Homo sapiens: one gene and its partner. The protein of the gene in region 1 purifies or fractionates together with the protein of each later gene. This does not show direct contact. Each region holds a gene or a part of one and is shown in the gene's direction. Other genes may lie near its edges.

Region 1 (7,028 bases):
AGCTGTCCTTTGTTTTTTTATGTGTGTGTGTGTGTTTTGTTGTTGTTTTTTGTTTGTTTTCTTTTTGTGTTTTTTTTTGAGATGGAGTCTCATTCTGTTGCCCAGGCTAGAGTGCAATGGTGCAATCTCAGCTCACTACAACCTCCCCCTCCCAGGCTCAAGCGATTCTCCTGCCTCAGCCTCCCCAGTAGCTGGGATTAACAGGCCCCCACCATCACACCTGGCTAATTTTTGTATTTTTTTTTTCTGAGTCGGAGTCTAGCTCTGTCTCCCGGGATGGAGTGCAGTGGCATAATCTCAGCTTGCTGCAAGCTCTGCCTCCCGGGTTCACGCCATTCTCCTGCCTCAGCCTCCCAAGTAGCTGGGGCTACAGGCGCCCGCCACCACGCCTGGCTAATTTTTTTGTATTTTTTAGTAGAGACGGGGTTTCACCGTGGTCTTGATATCGTGACCTTGTGATCCGCCCGCCTTGGCCTCCCAAAGTGCTGGGATTACAGACGTGAGCCACCGTGCCCAGCCAATTTTTATATTTTTAATAGAGACGGGATTTCACTACGTTGGCCAGGCCGGTCTCAAACTCCTGACCTCAGGTGATCCGCCCACCTCGGCCTCCCAAAGTGCTGGGATTACAGGCGTGAGCCACTGTGCCCGGCCTCAGCTTACAGCTGTCCTAAGAACACCTGCTTACACTAGGCAGTTGCCAGCTAAATTTAAATGCGTATTTTGGAAATAACCAACTGCTTTGTAAATTAGAGATTTATTGTATTTAGTGTATTGCATATAAAAAAATTACTGCTTTTGTTTGTTTTTAAGCTCTGTATGAAAAAGCTGATATCAAGGGGCCTGAAGACAAGAAGAAACACCTCCTTATTGGTGTGTCCTCAGATCGAGGACTGTGTGGTGCTATTCATTCCTCCATTGCTAAACAGATGAAAAGCGAGGTTGCTACACTAACAGCAGCTGGGAAAGAAGTTATGCTTGTTGGAATTGGTGACAAAATCAGAGGCATACTTTATAGGTAATTTAAATATATATTGTTTATTTTCATAAAGATGTAAGCACGAATAAATCTTCTCTCAAAAGTTTTGACAAACTCTCAAAACCTTCATCAATAACAAGGTATATTCTTCAGGGCCTTTTTTGGTATATTCACAAGGGGGTGTTTGTTTCCTTTTTCTTTTTTCCAGGATATATTGGAACATTTCTGTTTTCCTTCCCCTGTTTTCTACCTTTGCTTCTTCATCCGGATCATAAGTTGAATGCCATGTGAATATCAAAAGCTATCAGCATTAAGCCAAATGAGGCATCTGAGGAGCTGTTACAGCCTGGAAATGTTAGCAATAGTTCATTAGGATTAGAAGGAGAGGAATAAAGGGGAAAAGAATATAAAACAGACCTCATTTTTAGTTCTTAGTTCTTTGCAGGTGCTGAAGGAAAGGAATGATGATAGTGTGTGGAACAACTCAGGAAATCACCACCACCCATACCCCAAAAGACCTGATCCATGGTGACAATGTTTTCTCCTGCCTGTCCCCTGTGCTCTTTCAGCAGAAATCTTATTAAACTAGCTATGTGAGCTCTTGCTTTTCTTATAGGACTCATTCTGACCAGTTTCTGGTGGCATTCAAAGAAGTGGGAAGAAAGCCCCCCACTTTTGGAGATGCGTCAGTCATTGCCCTTGAATTACTAAATTCTGGATATGAATTTGATGAAGGCTCCATCATCTTTAATAAATTCAGGCAAGACAGATTTAGAAATCAAAGCTTTTTTATGTTCATGCTTTTGTTCATATTTTGAAATAACAGTTTAAAAATTATTTTGAGATTTACATTTGTTTTTGTCAATTCTAGGTCTGTCATCTCCTATAAGACAGAAGAAAAGCCCATCTTTTCCCTTAATACCGTTGCAAGTGCTGGTAAGTAGTTTTTCTATGATACATATTTTTTGGCATATAGAATGGAGAGATTTGTACACTAAGGCAGACAGTGTCAAGATATCTGGTGGTAGCTATAGCAAATGATTTGGGGCTGTTTCTTTTTTAGATGGAATCTTGCTGCCTCCCAGGCTGGAGTGCAGTGGCACCATCTCGGCTCACTGCAAGTTCCGCCTCCTGGGTTCACACCATTCTCCTGCCTCAGCCTCCCTAGTACCTGGGACTACAGGCACCCGCCACCAAGCCTGGCTAATTTTTTGTATTTTTAGTAGAGACGGGGTTTCACCATGTTAGCCAGGATGGTCTCAATCTCCTGACCTCGTGATCCACCCGCCTCGGCCTCCCAAAGTGCTGGGATTACAGGCATGAGCCCAGCCTTTTATTTTTTTATTTTTTATTTTTTGAGACGGAGTCTCACTGTGTCACCCAGGCTGAAGTGCAATGGCATGATCTCGGCTCACTGCAACCTTCGCCTCCCGGGTTCACGCCGTTCTCCTGCCTCAGCCTCCCAAGTAGCTGGGATTACAGGTGCACGCCACCACGCCTGGCTAATTTTTGTATTTTTAGTAGAGACAGCATTTCACCGTGTTCGCCAGGCTGGTCTTGAACTCCTGCCCTCAAGTGATCCACCTGCCTTGGCCTTCCAAAGTGCTGGGATTACAGGCATGAGCCACTGCACCCGGCCGATCTGGGGCTGTTTCTGAGAAGTGCCATCTCTTGACTTCCATGATACTTAATTCAGTCATTGTTTGATAACTCCTGCTCTATTCTGTCATTAATTGAAAAGTCAGTATCTATTGAGGTTCATCATTAGATTTTTTTGTCCTCAAGGATTGAAGAGCGTAGCTAGAAACTGGCTTTGCAAGTTATGTTTGGGACCTCTAACTACAATAAAACAGAAGCTCTAGAATAGAGAGTTGAACAGTGTTCACAGCTAATTTACATTGACTGACTCAATTCTCTTGTTTTATTGTTGGAATAAAGTCATCATTGATCATTGAAGCATCCTGGAATAATATTCTGGAACTGATTTTAGTTTTCTAAGGCTTTTTTCCCTTGTATATACCATCTATTTTCTAATACTTCATTTATTTTCAAGTATGTACTTTACACGTTAATGTTTCTGAAATTGAGATGGCTCTACCAGCCAATGGAACATCATTTATAATTGAGTACATTTTTTTCTCTCTTAATGAGAAATAAAGTAGGTGTTACAACCAGTACCATTTAATGAAATATAGTATTTTGATAATATATAGTACTGTGTCACCACTTGACCCCAATGAATGAATTTTGAAATGTACTTCTAAATTTCTACAACATTAAAACTACGATTCATACCAATTTCTAGTTCTCCCACTCTTTCATGTGCTTTGAAAGGTTTTCCCTCTCTCATTTTCCAGATTGATACATTCAGATTTCTTCAGTAATCAAATGACTAAGTTGGAATTACTGCACAGGTTGAGTATCCCTTGTGTGAATGCTTAGGACCAGAAATGTTTGGGATTTCAGAATATTTTCATATTTATAATGCAGTATCTTGGGGACAGGACCTGAGTCTGTACACCCTATACACATAGCCTGAAGGCAATTTTATGCAATATTTTAAAGAATTTTCTGCATGAAACAAAGTTTCAAATGCACCCCATCACACAAGGTCAGGTGTGGAATTTTCCACTTGTGGCATCACGTCAGTGCTCAAAATGTTTCAGATTTTGGAGCACTTCAGATTTTGGACTTTGGGATTAGGGATGCTCAACCTGTATTACACTAAATTCGTTTCAATTCATTATTATTCTTTTTTACTGGAAAAAGCATTGAGTGCTTGCTGGCTTTGTAACAGGCACATGCTAATGCTGTCCAGAGGGCTTCATAACCACGAGATATAGTGCAGTTATTTCAAATGTTGACCTAATTTTTCTAAAGTTACACATGTGGAGTAGAATATCAAATGGTTTATTTACACATTATATTTTGCTAAAAATATGCTATCATCTGTAGTGTGGAAATAGATGACATTATTAGAACAGATTCATTTACCTTATCTAGCATTAATTTCTGCTCTGTAATTATAAAGGAGTTTTACACTGAAAAGCTGTTTTTGATGAATTACTATTCCTTCCATATAACTTGAAAGAAACTCATCACTTGTTTTAACAGACAGCATGAGTATCTATGACGATATTGATGCTGACGTGCTGCAAAATTACCAAGAATACAATCTGGCCAACATCATCTACTACTCTCTGAAGGAGTCCACCACTAGTGAGCAGAGTGCCAGGATGACAGCCATGGACAATGCCAGCAAGAATGCTTGTAAGTACACAGTATGGACAGTGCCAGCAGGAGTGCTTGTGAGCACACAGTGAATCTCAGCTGAGAGGAGTCCGTGGCCGAGAGTAGCATCAACAACATTAACATGATATTCCTGTACCTGTAAGAAAGTATATCTTGATAGGTAGTTGATTTGCAAGTACTGTGAAAAGGTATCCTATGGAAGATGTAAAAATATCTTCATAACATTATTTGAGAGGCCAATTTTGGTATCCAAAAATTTCTTACTTTTAAATTAAGCAACAGAAGTTAGTTAACAAGTTATTCTACTCTAGTTTCAGATTTTTTATGTAGTGTTTTTGTTTTGTTTGTAGCTGAGATGATTGACAAATTGACATTGACATTCAACCGTACCCGCCAAGCTGTCATCACAAAAGAGTTGATTGAAATTATCTCTGGTGCTGCAGCTCTGTGAGTAATTGTAGATTGTCGCCTTCAGAGAATTTTTTTTCCTCTTGCTGTGTCTGCTTGTTTGGATGCTTAAAAGTTTTTCGTTTTTTTCTTTTGAAGTTGAAACTCATTGCTGAAACTTGCATCCTAACTCTTAGGCTATAAAGATGTGGTAAAAATGGGACCTCTTTGCTTTATTTTTATTGTTTCAGCTGGAAACACTCGGGCTTAGTTTTCGGTTTTCTAAAGGATTAGGAATGGGATGTGGATAATTCAGTATCATTTATGAAATCTTTTTTTGGAATTTAAACAATTGTAAGCCAAGCTTTCTGAGTTACAGGGCTAGTTTCAGATTTGGTTTTACATAAATCTATAAACCATTGCATGTTGGGAAGGTCCAGGAATTTTTTAATCATTATGTTTTTTAATCATTATGTTTTCTATATCAGTACCAAAAGATAGTATAGCCATCCCTCAGTATCTGCAGTGGATTGGTTCCAGTACTCACTCTCACCTCCCCCAGGATACCAAAATCTGAAGATCCTCAAGTCCCTGAAATAAAATAGCACAGTACTACATATAAAAAATGCACATCCTCTCGTATACTTTTAATCATCTCTAGTTATAATGCTATGTAAATTGTTGTTGTATTGGTTTTTGTTTTTATTATTTTATCATTATTTTTGTCTTTTTTCCAAATATTTTACATCGGCTGTTGGTTGAATCCATGGATACTGAGGGCCAACTATATACTGCTTTCCTCAAGAAAATTTCTTAGTTGTTGAAAAACTTTAATGTTTATGAAAAAAAGGTTAAGATAATGGGAATTTTATTCAAAAAGTTATTAAGTTGAATACCCACTATGTGCACAGTACAGTGCTAGACACAGTGTTAAGGATGTGATTCTCTCTTTTAAGGCACTTATATTCTAATAGGATAAGAAACATACAAGTAATTGTGATTAGATAAAACGTGTAGTAAGTTCTTTTTGACTCGTTCCTTCTTACCTCCTGCTAATCAGTTACCATGCTCTTTAAGTTTTACCTTCTAACTATCTCTTGAATCTTCCCCCTTCTTTATGCCCACTTAATGCAGATCCTTGTCATTTCTCTCCTGGGTTCAAAAAGGTAATTATTTGAGTGCCCCTTAAGTGTCAGGCCCTGTGCTAGACACTGAGGATACAGTGGTAACAGTATTTGCCTTCAGAGAGCTCAGTCTTCACAGTAAAGGCAGACACTAAATAAGAAGTCACAGCAGAACAGAGGTTGCTAAACTGTGGCCTGGAGCTAAGAATGGGTTCTGCATTTTTAAAGGGATATAAGAAAAAGGAGAGTGATAGCGTGTGACCCACAGAGTGCAGAATACTTGCTGTGTGGCCCTTCACCGAAAAAATTTGCCTATTCTTGTGACAGTGTTATGAGGAAAATAACAAAATCCATTCTCTGTTATACACTCATTCTGCAGAAACACTCGATGTATGTGATCCTATATTTTCTGGTCACCAGCACTCTTCCCAGTCCAGTCTCTTACCATTACCATTTCTCACGTCCTTGAACCTCAGCCACCTTGATCTACTTCCAGATCTACAGATTCGTCACTCTTTCTCGCGGCCAGGGAGTGGCATGTGCTGCAGCCTGAAAAGCCACTATTTCTTCCCTTGCTCCCTTGATTCTTCATCTGACTGCCTCCTGTGTATCCTTCCTTACTCAGCTGGGGGAATCCTTTCTTCCAGAAAACACTCCTTCCTTCAGTCTGAGTGAGGCAGCCTTCTGCAGCATCCTGTCTTCCATTTAGCTTAGCTCTTACAGCCTTGTATGAGGAATTGGCTTTTTATTTGTCTGTGTGCTCCTCGAGGCTAGGATGGGACCATATCTTATTCACTTTTGTGTCCCCATTGCCTGGTACATACCTCCTTCGTGAATGTTGAATGAATGAATGAAATGCCATATGTATTCAGAACTGGAAGTTCAGAAGAGGGACAAATAACATTTTATTGGGTGTATGAAAATGTGGGTCCATGGTTTTAAGAGTCAGGGAAAAGTTCATCACTATTTAAAGTGTTCCTTAAGTGTTACTTTTCAAGGGCAGAAACTGGGCAGAATGCCAGAGAGACACAACTAGAACTTTTTGAGCCAACAGAGACCTTTGTGTAAGTTGTTAGTTGGATCCATCAGCCTCGCTATCCTAAGCATTCTTCTCTTATTTTACTTTCTAAGCACAGCTGTGTTAGGACTAACCCATTCACAGCCTGGTCACCAATGTTCTATCAGCATCACAGAATACTGTCTCATGGTGTCTAGCTTGATGAACTTGGTTAGGATACTCTCTCTGTTACTCAGCTTTGTCATCTGTAACATGGGGACTAATACAA
Region 2 (7,028 bases), on another chromosome or scaffold:
ATGATCAGTATCAATCTCTGATTGGTATTTTTTTAAAAAGGGGGGGAGGAAAAGTATAATTGATACCATTAGAAGATTCCTAATTTTTTTCTTTGTATGCCCTATGCAGCAGCAGCCTCAATTTGTATTTATTTATTAATTATTATTATTATTTTTTTTTTTTTTGAGATGGAGTCTTGCTATGTTGCCCAGGCTGGAGTGCAGTAGCATGATCTCGGCTCACTGCGACCTCCACCTCCTGGATTCAAGTGATTGTCCCGCCTCAGCCTCCTGAGTAGCTGGGATTACAGGCATTCGCCACCATGCCCAGCTAATATTTTTGTATTTTTGGTAGAGACAGGGTTTCACCATGTTGGCCAGGCTGGTCTCGAACTCCTGACCTCAAGTGATCCACCCGCCTCAGTCTCCCAAAGTGCTGGGATTACAGGCATGAACCACCATGCCAGGCCAATTACTATTATTATTTATAGTTTTTGTTTTTGTTTTTGTTTTTGTTTTTTGAGACAGAATCTCACTCTGTCACCCAGGCTGGAGTGCAGTGGTGCAGTCTCGCTCCATTGCAACAGACACCTCCTGGATTCAAGCAGTTCTCATGCCTCAGCTTCCCAAGAAGTTGTGATTACAGGCATGTGCCACCATGCTGGGCTAATTTTTGCATTTTTAGTAGAGATGGGGTCTTGCTATGTTGGCCAGACTGGTCCTGAACTCCTGACCTCCGGTGATCTGCCTACCTCGGACTTCCAAAGCGCTGGAATTAAAGGCGTGAGCCACTGCACCTGGCCTATTTTTATTTATTTTTAATTTTTTTAGAGATAGGGCTGCAATGTGGTGGTGAAGTCCTAGCTCACTGCAGCCTTGAACTCCTGAGCTCAAGGGATCCTCCCATCTCAGCTTCCCAAGTAGTTGGGAGTACATGTGCATGCCACCATGCCTGGCTAATTATTTTTTGTGAAGACACAGGGTCTCACTTTGTTGCCCAGGCTGTTCTTAAATTTCTAGGCTCAAGTGATTCTCCTTCCTCAGCCTCTTAAAGTGCTGGGATTACAGGGGTGAGCCACCATGCCCAGCCAACATATTGTTATTTTAAATCTTTATCTTTTCTATGAAAGTGACAAAAGGTATATCAGGGATTAAATGACAATCCATACCTGTTTTTCCTAGGGGCTTTATGGAGAAAGTGAGTTTTAAAGAACCAGAATTAGGATATTTAGTCTATGGAAAGTTTGATGACCTTTTCTCTGTATTGGTTAGAAGGGCAGGTTTTGGTATAGTGGTAGACTCCATTGATTTCCAAATTCTAGATGCCAAGTGACTCTACTGAGTTGGGCAAAATTTTGCCTTTTTTTTTTTTTTTTTGAGATGGAGTCTCACTCTGTTGCCCAGGCTATAGTGCAGTGGTGCAATCTCGACTCACTGCAACCTCCACCTCCCAGGTTCAAGCAATTCTCCTGCCTCAGCCTCCTGAGTAGCTGGGATTACAGGTGCCCACCAGCATGCCTGGCTAATTTTTTGTATTTTTTTGTTGTTGTTATTGTTGAGACAGAGTCTTGCTCTGTTGCTCAGGCTGGATTGTGGTGGCGCGATCTTGGTTCACTGCATCCTCCACCTCCTGGGTTCAAGTACTTCTCCTGCCTCAGCCTCCAGAGTAGCTGGGATTATAGGCACTTGCCACCACCCCCGGCTAATTTCTGTATTTCTAGTAGAGACAGTGTTTCACCATGTTGGCCAGGCTGGTCTCGAACTCCTGACCTCAAGTGGTCCACCCTCCTCGACCTCCTAAAGTGCTGGGATTACAGGCGTGAGCCACTGCACCCAGCCTTGCCTTTTTTGTTTAATTCAAAATTCTTTTCCCATATGGTACCTGACATATCATTAAACATGTTACTGTTTTCAAATAAGATCAGATAGCTATGTGGAGTTTTGAACATTTTACATTGTTTGTTTTCTGGTTTTGTTTGTTTCATGTTACTCCTGGCAAGCTGTGATGTTTTCTGATACGTAGAGCAACTGCCATTTTTTAGCACAGTGTAAACTTGAAGGATGAATTAAATGTATTATTATTATTTACAGTTTTTTCAAGATGAAGTGATTATACCTAAGTAGGAACATATATATCTACTGTTTATATCCGTTTTCATGTTTAGTATCTTTGTGAACACCAGTTAGTTTTTAAATCTCCTTTCCCTGCTCTTTTTTTTTTTTTTTTTTTTTAAAAAAAGACTGGTTCTTACTCTGTCACCCAGGCTGGAGTGCAGTAGTGCAATCTTGGCTCACTGCAACTTCCGCCTCCTGGGTTGAAGCAATTCACATGCCTTAGCCTCCCAAGTAGCCGGGATTACAGGCATGCGCCACCATGCCAGCTCATGTTTTTGTATTTTCAGTAGAGATGGGGTTTCACCATGTTGGCCAGGCTGGTCTTGAACTCCTGACCTCAAATGATCCACCTGCCTTGGCCTCCCAAAGTGCTGGAATTACAGGTGTGAGCCACCGTGCCCGGCCACCTTTCCCTGCTCTTTAATCATGTAAATGCTGTGTTCTGGAGTTTCATTTGTCCACAAAGGAAAAGTCTAAATGTTTTAGAAATTAAGGTTGAAGTTTATGTTTATTTATTTATTTGAAACCTAAATATAGGGGAGGAATTCTCTTTTGGATGCTTGATCGTTCCCCTGCTTCAATATGATTTGTTTCATTGAACTAAAATGATCTCTCAGGGAATCTTCTGTGCAGCAGAATATTTTGACAAGGTTTATCAACGTCTCAAGAGAATGGTTAATATTAACATGAATAGCTCCATGTTTTTTTCTATTTTAGTCTTGCTGGTGGATGCCCTCCTTACTCCCCAATATATACGTCTTGGATAGACTGTTGGTGCATGCTACAAAAAGAGGTATTTCTTTTTCTCTGTCTCTCTCATTTTATTTTGTTTTATTTTTATTTATTTGTTTTCTTAAATATTGTCTCTGGAATCCCAAGTTAACTCTTGTAGCTCACTTTAGCTAGAGTTAGTCTAGTCTGCCAGTTAATGTACACTTTACAGTGTTCTGTGTTTTCACTTTGGCATAATAGTAAAATGTGATGTTTAGAAATCATGAGCAGGAGTAATGAAGAAGAAAGAATCCCTAGATGAGACCTAGAAGCCATTTGAGTGCCCACATTCAACTTACAAATACGATCCAGGTAGATTATTATCCTGGTAAAATGATGGCCTTGATTTTAGACTCTTTTTTTCCCCCAAACTCACCTTTCATAACCACTTATTTGTCACAGTGGTATTGACAGAGCTGGTCTTATACTTCTAGAGTCTTGTTAGTGGATGATTTTGCCTAGATACCAATTTAGGGTTTGTTATTACTATGAGGTGTATAATCTGCAACAAAAAATTATTTATTATCTAGGCAAAGCTTTATTGGAAAATAAAATAATGGGCTGGGTGCAGTGGCTCACGCTTATAATTCTAGCACTTCGAGAGGTCTAGGTGGGCAAATTGCTTGAGCCTAGGAGTTTGAGACCAGTTGAGGCAACATGATGAGACCTCATTGCTACAGAAAATACAAAAACTTAGCCAGGCATAGCACCTATAGTCCCAGCTACCCAGGAGGCTAAGGTGGGAGGATCACCTGAGCCCAGGAGGTCAAGGCTGCAGTGAGCCAAGATTGCATCACCGCACTTCAGCCTGGGTGACAGAGTGAGACCCTGTATCCAAAAAAGGAAAATAAAATAACGGCTAGGTATGGTGGCTCATGCCTATAGTTCCAGTTACTCAGGAGGCTGAGCCAGGAGGATCACATGAGTCCAGGAGTTTGAGGCCAGCCTGGGCAACACAGCCAGACGTGTCTCTTAACAAAAAACTACAGGCCAGGTGCAGTGGCTCACAGGTGTAATCCCAGCACTTTGGGAGGCCAAGGCGGGCAGATCACTTGAGGTCAGGAGTTTGAGACCAGCCTGGGCAACGCAGTGAAACCCCATCTCTACTAAAATACAAAAGAAATTAGCTGGGCGTAGCAGCGTGTGCCTGTAGTCCCAGCTACTGGGGAGGCTGAGGGAAGAGAATTGCTTTAACCCAGGAGGTGGAGGTTGCAGTGAGCCAAGATTGTGCCACTGCACTCCAGCCTGGGTGACAGAGCAAGACTCCATCTCAAAAAAAAAAAAAAGACAATAACAACAACAAATGGATTGGCTGTGGGCTAAATTTAGCACAGGATCACTTAAAATGATTATCAGTTTAAAGCTGTTTTTGAAGGGGGGTCCACTTCTTAAAAGATTGTAGAAGAAAGCGTATAAAGAAGCTCTTTGTTGCATTATTTTATAGCACTAGTGATATATAAGAGAAAGGCCTTTGAAATCTGAATGAAAAGGCCTAAGTGTTGTTTGTAGTTGCTCTTGCTTAGTGTGCCCACAAAGCCCCTCTGTGAATCCAAGCTTGAATACTTGAATGATTTCAGTACAGACCTACTATGAACATTGTGCATTTCATTCTGAGTTTTACTCTCTATTGTACAGTGTGGTCCCTGTTTAAATGGAAAAAATGGCCTTTCCTTCCTTCCTTTTCTGACTAACACTCTGTTATAGGAAGAAAGCAGACAGAGAATGGATTACGGTGTCAAACACACTTAAAGTAGGAACAGTTGTTCCTGTAGGTGCTTACAACAACAGCAAATCTTGATTGGGCATTTACTGTATACCAGATATCATGCTAAGAGCTTTTCTTACATCAGCTCATGTAATCCTCAAAACAGCTGTGTGAGAATAGGTGTCATTCTTAATCACCCATTTCACATATGAAGAAACTGGGGCTTAGAGCAGTTTAGTGCCAATTACATAATGCAAGGTCACATGGCCTATATTTGGGAAGGCTCAGATTTATACTCCAGAGTGTACTCAGTTGCACTCAGAACATTATTACTTTATTTTTATTTACTTATTTGGTTCTTTATTTTTTAGAGACAAGCTCTGTCGCCCAGGCTGGTGTGCAGTGGTGGCATCACAACTCACTGTAGCCTCAAACTCCTGGGGTAAAGCAATCCTCCTACCTCAGCCTCCCAAGTAGCTAGGACTACAGGCATGCTTCCACCATGTCCTGTTAATTTTTTTGTTTTGTTTTGTTTTTGAGACAGGGTCTCACTCTGTCACCCAGGCTGGAGTGCAGTGGCATGGTATTGGCTCACTGCAACCTCTGCCTCCTGGCTGAGGTCTCTGGCTCAAGTGATCGTCCCACCTCAGCATCCCAGGTAGCTTGGACTACAGGCACATACCGCTAAGCCCAGCTCATTTTTTTGTTTTTTGTTTTTTGTTTTTTTTAATTTTATTATTATTATACTTTTAAGTTTTAGGGTACATGTGCACAACGTGCAGGTTTGTTACATATGTATACATGTGCCGTGTTGGTGTGCTGCACCCATTAACTCATCATTTAGCATTAGGTATATCTCCTAATGCTATCCCTCCCCCCTCACCCCTGTTTTTTGTTTTTTGTTTGTTTGTTTTTTTGTTTTGTTTTGTTTTGTTTTGTTTGAGACGGAGGCTTGCTCTGTCATCCAGGCTAGAGTGCAATAGCACGATCTTGGCTCACTGCAACCTTCACCTCCCAGGTTCAAGCAATTCCCCTGCCTCAGCCTCCTGAGTAGCTGGGATTACAGGTGTCCGCCACTACGCCCGGCTAATTTTTGTATTTTTAGTAGAGATGGGGTTTCACTATGTTAGTCAGGCTGGTCTCGAACTCCTGACCTCAGGTGATCTGCCTGCCTCAGCCTCCCAAAGTGCTGAGATTACAGGCGTGAGCCACCATGTCTGCCCAATTTTTTGTATTTTTTGTAGCAACGGGGTTTTGCCATGTTGTGCAGGCTGGTCTCAAATTCCTGAGCTCAAGTGATCCTCCTGCCTTGGTCTCTCAAAGTGCTAGGATTACCGGTGTGAACCATCACACCCGGCCTTTAATTTTTTAATTTCTTGTAGAGATGGGGTCTTACTATGTTGTCCAGGTTGTTATTACTTTGATTATAAGATTTTATAAGTAGTCCTTAGAAACATGATTTCATTTCATTAAGAAATAAATAGGCCGGGTATGGTGGATCACACCCGTAATCCCTGCACTTTTGGGAGGCCAAGATAGGCGGATCACTTGAGGTCAGGAGTTTGAGACCAGCCTGGCCAATATGGTGAAACCCCACCTCCACTAAAAGTACAAAAATTAGCCAGGCACGGTGGCGCGTTCCTTTCCCAGCTACTTAGGAGGCTGAGGCAGGAGAATCGCTTGAACCTGGGAGGCAGAGGTTGCAGTGAGCCGAGATTGCACCACTGCACTACAGCCTGGGCAACAGAGCGAGACTCCATCTCAAAAAAGAAAAACAAAGAAATAAATGAAAGCTAGCACTTACTGAATGTTAGGCACTGTTCTACATGACTCATTTGCTAAGCCAGCTGGAAAGTGGCAAAGCCAGAATCCAACCTGGGCGTTCTGTCTGCCCAGAGTAAGAACTTAATAAGGAGAAATTGTAGTTAGTTCATAGTAGCTCAGCCTTTCAGAGAATACTAATCCTTGTTCTGTAGTGATAGTCCCAGTTTTGTCCTAGATTTAGTCACGTCTCCCAATTGGACCTCTCTGCTGATTTGGATTGGCTGATCTCATCTCGCTAGATATTATTTGTGTTTTGTTTTGTTTTGTTTTCCAGGGGAATATGAGCCGAGGAAATAGCTTATTTTTCCGGAAGGTCCCCTTTGGGAAGACTTATTGTTGTGACCTGAAAATGTTAATTTGAAGATGTGGGGCAGGGACAGTGACATTTCTGTAGTCCCAGATGCACAGAATTATGGGAGAGAATGTTGATTTCTATACAGTGTGGCGCGCTTTTTTAATAATCATTTAATCTTGGGAAAATTCAGGTGTTTGGTGTCTGCCTTTTTTGTTCTTTTTTCCAGCACAACATAACTTACCACTGATACTCCCCCTTTAGTTATTCTGAATTAGGATATTTTTGCTCCAAATTCTTATTTTACTTAACCAGAAGGGAAAAAAAGTTGTATTTTCCTGA

Evidence for each region.
Region 2: the proteins of ATP5F1C (region 1) and MTCH2 fractionate together in Homo sapiens (co-fractionation; 2 studies listed by BioGRID). This does not show direct contact.

What each region holds. Positions count from the first base shown.
Region 1 is NC_000010.11:7,798,177-7,805,204, forward strand, and holds part of ATP5F1C (ATP synthase F(1) complex subunit gamma, mitochondrial isoform L (liver) precursor), read left to right. Parts: intron 1-813; coding exon 814-1,018; intron 1,019-1,254; exon of another isoform or gene 1,255-1,325; intron 1,326-1,595; coding exon 1,596-1,739; intron 1,740-1,850; coding exon 1,851-1,915; intron 1,916-4,093; coding exon 4,094-4,249; intron 4,250-4,581; coding exon 4,582-4,678; intron 4,679-7,028.
Region 2 is NC_000011.10:47,618,560-47,625,587, reverse strand, and holds part of MTCH2 (mitochondrial carrier homolog 2), read left to right. Parts: intron 1-2,811; coding exon 2,812-2,887; intron 2,888-6,668; coding exon 6,669-6,755; coding exon of another isoform or gene 6,756-6,788; 3' UTR 6,789-7,028. UniProt on the Homo sapiens protein: Protein insertase that mediates insertion of transmembrane proteins into the mitochondrial outer membrane. Catalyzes insertion of proteins with alpha-helical transmembrane regions, such as signal-anchored, tail-anchored and multi-pass membrane proteins.